Linked DNA regions of Homo sapiens: regions 1 and 3 are each linked to region 2. Evidence: fine-mapped expression QTL. A gene starts in region 2. Each other region holds a variant in brackets. All regions are shown on one strand. Distances are from middle to middle. Region 1 has its middle 45 kb from the start of SSR1. Region 2 holds the start of SSR1 (signal sequence receptor subunit 1). Region 3 overlaps LOC102724234 (a long non-coding RNA gene).

Evidence for each region. PIP is the estimated chance that this variant, and not a neighbour inherited with it, causes the effect.
Region 1: its variant is the best candidate, but not a certain one, in a credible set for the expression of SSR1 in whole blood (INTERVAL, PIP 0.86).
Region 3: its variant is the best candidate, but not a certain one, in a credible set for the expression of SSR1 in whole blood (INTERVAL, PIP 0.89).

The regions. Positions count from the first base shown.
Region 1 is chr6:7,266,708-7,269,463 of GRCh38, forward strand. No RefSeq gene overlaps it. Among named protein-coding and RNA genes, the nearest start is that of SSR1, 45 kb to the right of the region's middle. RefSeq lists an enhancer at 629-1,130 and a silencer at 709-1,003. The variant C/CA (reference allele first, on the strand shown) is at 1,714.
Region 2 is chr6:7,312,210-7,314,954 of GRCh38, forward strand. It overlaps SSR1 (signal sequence receptor subunit 1), which reads right to left and starts at 990. Exons shown (of 8, transcript NM_003144.5): 1 at 833-990. The coding sequence starts at 911. RefSeq lists enhancers at 154-1,022, 1,023-1,889, 1,226-1,295, 1,306-1,365 and silencers at 446-495, 626-735.
Region 3 is chr6:7,440,253-7,443,008 of GRCh38, forward strand. All of the region lies in intron 2 of LOC102724234 (a long non-coding RNA gene), which reads left to right. Among named protein-coding and RNA genes, the nearest start is that of RIOK1, 52 kb to the left of the region's middle. The variant G/A (reference allele first, on the strand shown) is at 1,269.

The DNA.
Region 1 (2,756 bases), 45 kb before region 2:
TGTTTCTTATAGCTGCTCTTCCTAGATGATTGGAGTTGACTTCTTACTAGCCAACCCCTCACTACTCTAAACCTGTTACAGTTATGTCAAACTTCCCCCATTCAAATTAATATGTGGTTTCCTCTCTTGCTTGGTACAGCATTGGTACCATGAGTAGTCCCAGCCATAGACCTGCAAAGATGGGATTTGGAAGCTGGTTGTGCCTTTGGGCTTGAGCACAGTGCTGAGCTCCTTGCTGGTGGTACATTGGGTTCCTACTGGGAACAGACTTATCATTCCCAGGGGCCCTTCTTCCAATCCTGTGTAGCCTGCTGATAAATGATCACCCCTAGATCCAGGACGTGACCAAGCCCCACGGGTGATGGCAGCACAGCCTTCCAAGGGACATCTGGGGTTTCCACCTGTGACCTTGGTAACACTGGAAGCATTTCTGGGTGCTGGAATCAAGGCACTGCATGGATGCCCAGAAATGCTCCTAAGTGGCCTCAGAGCCACAGGTCTCTGCTGCACCGCTTAGGAGATGGCATCACCCTGAGCAAGGGACCCTGGCGGGGACCACTGGGCGGCGTGACCCAGGCTCACCCATCTTCAGATCGGGGCACTGGGTGTCTGTCATATGTCCAGAATACCATACTACTGTCACAGGCCGGGCTTGAAACCAAGGATGGGCACACAGAAGAGAAAGGCACATCTGGTCAAATCAAAGTGCTGCAAATATTGCGACTGTCCCGGCACCTCAGTCTCAGGAGAGCCAGTGAGGGCTTCCTTCAGTCTGGCTGATGCCTCATCTCTCTCCAATCCATCTTTTTCTCAGAGGCCCCTGTACCAGCATCACCCATCAGGGAACTGATCAGCAAGCAATTCTGGGCCCAATTCCAGGCCGACTGACTCAGAATTTCGGGGGTGGAGCCCAGCAGTCTGTGTGTGGACAAGTCCTGCAGGCAACTGTGCTGTGTGGTGAAGTGCAACAATTACTCATGTGCCAGGGGCAAATCCTGGCAGGCCCAGCCTGCAAATCACTGAATGCCCCCGCACCCCCGCTGGCTGACAGAGGCTTACCACCCGCCCCCAACACACACACTGTCAATCTCTGAATTCCCATGTAGAGCTTGTTTTAAAATGCAGCTTCCTGGGTCGGCTCCCTGAGATTCTGCTGGAGTAGGTATGTGTGTGTGTTCTGGGTGGTTCTGATGCGTGTGGCTCACAGGCTGAGTGTGCGATGCCTCTCTCTGCCTGTGACTCTGTGTGCACGTGTGTGCCTCTGTCAGGTGGCAAGTGAGCACTGCGTCTCCGCCCTCTCCTGTGTTCGCCTCAGATGCAGCGCACCTCTGCTCCTGTTGCCTCCCAGGTCCCCTGTGTCCTTCTTACCTTCACCTTTTTCCAAAATCCCCACTCCCATTCTCAAAGGCTCAGCTCAAAGATCTCCTCCTCCTGAAGCCTCTCGCCCCCCTCCCCACTCCCACCCACCACCCCCAATATGTTCTTGCTGCAAGTCCATAATATTAGTTATGGGCCCGGCTAGTGTGAAGACAGGCAGCGGCTGTCTTACTCAGCTGTGACTCCCCAGAGCCTGGCACTCAGCAAGAGATTCATACTTATTTGTAGGCCTTTCAATTCAGTTTATTTCAGTCTAATCTGATTCAGGGCAATTCAACTCCACTCACGTCAGCACAAGGGAAGAGCGCCCCGGAGCCCACAATGGGCACCAACACA[C/CA]AGACAGTGGCCTCAGGCAGCCCGGCTGGAAGGAGCCCACTGGTCTCACAGGCGTAACCCGTGTTTGCAGGCATAACTCGTGCGCACGTGTGGCACTGCTCGGCCTGGGCACCGAGCGCTCCCCGTGCCTCAGGTCCCTCCAGACATGCCCCCTCCACCGCCCCTCCTGAGGACGCTCATCTTTGAAAATGTCCTAAGACGGAACTGGAAGCTCTAAGGTACGCGTTCCAACCATCACGTGGCAGGGGCTGGTGGGCTTCACGCAGAGCCCCCTGTCTTCTGGCCTCATTCACCATCAGTGTAGTGGGTGGGGACAGCTGACCCAAGGGCCCTACTGCATGGGTCGCACGGTTCAGCCAGTCCTTGCTGGCGGGACCTGCATCCCCATCCTACTGGCTGGCAGAGTAGGACTGGTTTCCTGGGACATCTCCACCCAGAAACAGCACACGACAGCTGTTATTCATCAGCCACAAAGCCCTAGTGACACAGCCATGCCCAGCGGTGACTTCCCAGAGCCATCCGGCGGAGGGCCCGGTTGAACAGGCGGCTGCTGTCCTAAGTTTCACAAATTGCAAAACGATGCAGAAAAGATGGCCGGGTCTCCAGGAACGGCTGTGCTGGGGGATGTCCTGAAGCAGCCACGGCGGAAGCGCTGGCCTTGCACCTGGAGACTGCGAGGCGCCCGAGCTGCAGGAGCGGCCCGATGTCATCAGTGCGTCTCCCTCCTCCTGCGTCTGAAAGAGCAAAGGGAGACAGTGACCTCCTGAGAGGCTTCCAGACGCCCCGCCAGGCACTTCCCTACTGGTGCATGAAGTGTGTGGCTGGACAGAGGCAGCAGGGCGGGGGGCCCAAGACTCTCTGCTGCTCTGTCCAGGCCAAATAGTTCCCACAATCAAAGACCCAGAGACTCTCCCCTCACACCCATCCACCCTCCCATGAAGAAACACATGGAAAAATCTAGGATGGGGTTCCAAGTTTCTAAAACTGGTCCATTCTGTGATTCCCCAAAGGAAGGATAAATATCATGCTTTTTTCTTGGGATT
Region 2 (2,745 bases):
TATTCTGCTAAGTTATTTTCACACTTAATTGCTGGGTTAATTGTTGAAAGAATAAATCTATGTATTAAAAACACTCGAAGTAGGCCACATTTTTTCAGCACAATACGATGTTTCCACAAACAAAAAATTGTTCCATGGAAAGACAAGAAGAGGAAGAAGGCAGAAGGGAGACATCCCACAGGGATTCTTCAGTCTGCTTGGCAGCAGGGGCGGATAACGGGGGTGACGATGGGGTAGTTTTTCTGAAATCAAGCCTCCTAGTAACACATACGGGTCAAGCAGGGCGTGAACAAGGCAGATGACCATTGAACAAGACACTCTGATGGCTTAGATGTGTAGAAAACAAGGGTTTTGGCAAATGAATGAAGACGGACTCCCGGCGTGGAAGCTAAAGACACGTCAGCCCTGAGCGCGAGGGGCTGGGGGTGGAGCGGAGCCGGAGGTGGCCAAAAGAAACAGCCCGGCTGCGGCGCGCTCGGAGCGCAGCCGTGTCCAGCGCCTCCTCCTGCAGCCGAGGACCCTCCAGTTCTGGCCGCTCCTGCAGGCGAGGGTCCAGGGCAAGAGGAGCAAGCCCAGCCCTCGGCCGGCCACGAAGCAAGGTCGCCCGGGCACGGCCCCGCGCTCCGCGTGCAAGGGGCAGGCCGCAGCGGGGTCTCCAGCGCCCGCGGGGACCCCTGCTGCTACGAGCCTAGGCTTGGGGAGAGGGCGGAGAGAGGCCAGCGGGGTGGACGCGGACCCCAGGACCCGGAGCGGCCACCGCCTCCAACTTCAAACTTGCCATCACTGGCATCTCCTTCCTGGCCATCCCCTCCGCACACTCCCCCAGCCTCACCTCTGGGGCCGCCTCGGAACAAGACAGTGGCAGGGAACACGAGTAAGAGAAGCAGCAGCAAGCGGGGGAGGAGTCTCATGGCGCTGCCGGTCCAGTGTCCAGTTTCCGTCGGCTAAGGCTCTCGGCGGCTCCGGCGGTAATGGCGTTACTCTTCATCCGGGCTCCGGGCAGCGAGGGGCGGGACACGTACCGCGCACGGGCCTTTGCCACGCCCCTCCCTGGACCAGGGACCGCCGCCGACGTGGCTGCTCAGCGCGGAGAGGTGGGGAGAGCAGGCCACCGGGAAGTCACGTGGCCGGCTGCTGCCTCTTTGTGGCTCCCGCGAGAGTCCGCCTTCCGCCGCAGTTGCGACCCGGCAGCTTGCGGTTAGCCGTTCTTTCCGCCCAGTTCTTTACTTCCAATTAATTAGCATTGTCAGTGGTTACTTTATTTGAATGACGATCCTCTTGATAACGGCGATGTAAGGAACATGAGCTGCCTTTATGTGGCACTTAAAAGCAAAAAATTTTGTTGGAAGAGAGGACATTGTTCAAAGGAAAAACCATGAAAATACACAGTGGAAAATCTTTGTCCCCTGTCTGCCCACACCCTCTCCCATGGTTAAGTAATGACAATTCTTAAATTATTATTTTTGAGACGAAGTCTTGCTCTGTCGCCCAGGCCAGAGTTCAGTGGCACCATCTCTGTTCACCGCAACCTCCGCCTCCCGGGTTCAAGCGATTCTCCCGCCTCAGCCTCCTAAGCAGCTGGGACTACAGGCGCGCACCACTACGCCCGGCTAATTTTTGTATTTTTACTGGAGACGGGGGTTTCACCATGTTGGCCAGACTAATCTCAAACTCCTGACCTCAGGTGATCCACCCGCCTGGGTCTCTCAAAGTGCTGGGATTACAGGTGTGAGCCACTGCGCCTGGCCAGCAATTCTTAAATTCGTATGTGACATTCCAGAATTATAAGTCACCTAAACAGTGTTTTGGTATGTAGTCAGCATTTGTAACTATACAATAGGTGCAGCAATGGCTGTCCAGTTTTCTTTAGTTTCCTTTTCATCTATTTTGGATTTGAGTTGCTGGAGTAATATAGCAGTTCATGAAATTAATCTGAATATTAAGTAATCTTGGTCTGGACCAGAGTGAGATGTCATAAAGATGAGGAAATAAATCATATGCTTACTATTGTCAATCACCTCCTTAGAGCTGTGCTTTTTCATTTAATTTTCTAAACCTCTCTATGAGCTGGATATTATTTACTGAGGAGAAAACAGACCCAGAGAGGTTAGTAATTTACTCAAAGCTTCAAAACGCTAGCAAACGGCAGATGCAAGATTTGAACAAGGCTATCTGGTTCCAGATTCCATACACTACTGACCTAGGACATTTGCTGTTCTACTCCTGCATTGTTTCCGCTTCAGGTCTCCTTGTCCTGGGGGCTGTAAATGCAGCTTGGACCCACTGCCACCACTACCTACAGTCTGCTAAAGTCACAGCCTGATGGTGCTGGGCTGAATCAACCAAATTCCACTCTGCCAGGCCACCAGTGGCACCGCTGCTGTGTTGCTGCTGCTACTAGGGCGCCCAGCATAAGTGGAGGGCCTCCTCTCACTTTGCTGCTGCCTCTGCTCCTGTGCACGCTACCAGTGTTGCCACTCTATGTCAGAGCTGTGTCTGGAATAGGGTTCTTGGTCTCACTGACTTTAAGACTGAAACCGCAGACCCTCGTGCTGAGTGTTACAGTTCTTAAAGTCCAGAGTTTGTTCCTTCATCATGTTCGGATGTGTTCCGAGTTTCTTCCTTCTGGTGGGTTCATGGTCTCACTGGCTCAGGAGTGAAGCTACTAGACCATCGCAGTGAGTGTTACAGCTGTTAAGGTGTCCATTCCTCCTGGTGGGTTCATAGTCTCGGTGGCTTTAGGAG
Region 3 (2,756 bases), 130 kb after region 2:
TAGATCTTTCTTTGTTCTCTTGAATGCTACTTTAAAAAAACTCATTGTGGGCCGGGCGCGGTGGCTCATGCCTGTCATCCCAGCACTTTGGGAGGTTGAGGTGGGCGGATCACGAGGTCAGGAGATCGAGACCATCCCTGGCCAACATGGTGAAACCCCGTCTCTACTAAAAATAAAAAAATTAGCCTGGCGTGGTGGCGCGTGCCTGTAATCCCAGCTACTCCAGAGGCTGAGGCAGGAGAATCACTTGAACCTGGGAGGCGGAGGTTGCAGTGAGCTGAGATCACGCCACAGCACTCCAGCCTGGCGACAGAGAGAGACTCCGTCTCAAAACAAAACAAAAAACTAAAACAAAACAAAAAACCTCATTGCATTCTTCTTTTATGAATACACTCTCTTTTCTCTATATTGCTGTCATCTGGCTTTAAAAACATGCTGTCCTGACTTGGTTTTGAGTCTCTAGCTAGAGACAGGTCAGTTTCCCTTATTAATACTCGAGGGGGTTCTGGAAGTTATCTTTTCTCTGCAGTGTCCCATTTCCCCAAGTTGCTTTTCCCCCTTCCTTGCGTCTCCTTGATATTAGAGACTTTGGTGGTATGCTGCTGCATTCTTTAGGGTGTAAACATTCACACCACCCTCCCCACTGACTCTCGGGTCCTCCCCCGCAGCTGTGCCCCTGGTCCCCAGTGCAGAGACCTTCTCCTTTCCCCTCTCCTGAAAATACATCTGTCCCCAGGCTTGTGCTGCAGTGGGAAAGGGCCCGTCCAGGAGTCGGGGAGGGATCCTGGAATTTAAAAGCATCTTTAACAGCTCCTCCTCAGAAACCCAGTCACACTTCCTTCCCCGCTAGTGAGAGGTGCCAGCCTGCTGGCAGCCCCCCTTCGCTCTTGGCACCTCCTCGGCCTCGACGCCCACTCTGGCCGTGCTTGAGGAGTCCTTCAGCCTACCGCTGCACTGTGGGATCCCTTCCAGGGATGGCCGAGGCCGGAGCCGGCTCCCTTGGCTTGCGGGGAGGTGTGGAGGGACAGGCACGGGCAGTAACCGGGGATGCGCGCGGCGCTTGCGGGCCAGAGCGAGTTCTGGGTGGGCTTGGGCTCGGCCGGCCCCGCCGGCCCAGGCAGTGAGGAACTTAGCACTTGGGCCAACAACGGCTGTCCTCGATTTCTTGCCAGGCCTTAGCTGCTTCCCCATGGGGCAGGGCTCGGGACCTGCAGCCCACCATGCCTGAGCCCCCCGTCCCAACCCCGCCCTGGGCTCCTGCACAGCCC[G/A]AGTCTCCTGAGCCTCCCGGACGAGCGCCGCCCCCTACTTCACAGCACAGAGTCCCATTGACCGCCCAAAGGACTAAACAGTGCGGGTCCACGGGCGGGACTGACAGCTCTACCTGCGGCCCCGCTGGGGAATACCACCGGGTGAAGCCAGCTGGGCTCAGTCAGTCTGGTGGGGACTTGAACAATCTTTATGTCTAGCTAAGGGGTTGTAAATACACCAATCAGCACTCTGTATCTAGCTCAAGGTTTGTAAACACACCAATCAACACCCTCTGTCTAGCTCAGGGTTTGTGGCTGCACCAATCGGCACTCTGTATCTAGCTAATCTGGTGGGGACTTGGAGAACCTTTTTATCTAGCTAAGGGATTGTGAATACACCAATCGGCACTCTGTATGTAGATGAAGGTTTGTAAATGCACCAATCAGCACCCTGCGTCTAGCTCAAGGTTTGTAAATGCACCAATCGGCGTTCTGTGTCTAGCTGATCTGGTGGGGACTTGCAGAACCTTTATGTCTATCTAAGGGATTGTGAATGCACCAATCGGCACTCTGTATCTAGCTCAAAGTTTGTAAATGCACCAATCAGCACTCTGTGTCTAGCTCAGGGTTTGTAAATACACCAATTAACACTCTGCATCTAGTTAATCTAGTGGGGACGTGGAGAACTTTTGTGTCTAGCTCAGGGATTGTAAACGCACCAATCAGCACCCTGTTAAAAACGGACCAATCAGCTCTCTGTAAAACAGACCAATCGGCTCTCTGTAAAATGGACCAATCAGCAGGATGTGGGTGGGGCCAGATAAGAGAATAAAAGCAGGCTGCCCGAGCTAGCCCCGGTAATTTGGTTAGTTTGTTTCATATGATGTGAGATATTTGTCTTTTTTTTTTTTGTTTTTTGGGTTCAGATTGTTGTTGGGAGTTTCAGCGGTTTTTTGCTAAAGTCTGTAGATTTTTCTGAATCTAATGTGGGTTGTGAGCCCTTGAAAAAGAACAGAGAACTTCAGATATGGTACTTTAAGTATGATAACATGAACTGTGAAGGTCTGCAGCTTTACTCCCGAACTAGTGAGACAGCGAACTCTGGGCAACGCTGTGTTTAACAGCTGGAACACTCACTGTACAGCTAAAACACTTTAAGTTTGCAACTTCGTTCTTGAAATTAGTAAGACCGAGAACCCGCTAGTTCTGGACACACTAGTTCCCAGGGTTACCAGGTGCTGCCTCTTTATGAAAGGCTGAGGCTTTTTGGCTGTTAGCTTTTCTCTATCTAGTATTCGGCTTTTCTCAGGTTAGTTATTTGCCCTACCGCTGACGTTTGTCTTGTACGTTTTTCCGCAGTTTTCTTTTAAGCGCTCTATTCTTGTGGGTGGTTTTGTTTTGGTAATTCAGGAAAGAAAATGAGGTGTGTGCATTCGTTACCTATCTTTCCCCTGAACTACAGTTGAGTGGTGTGTTACTTATCTTTCCTCTGAACTACATGGTAATTTG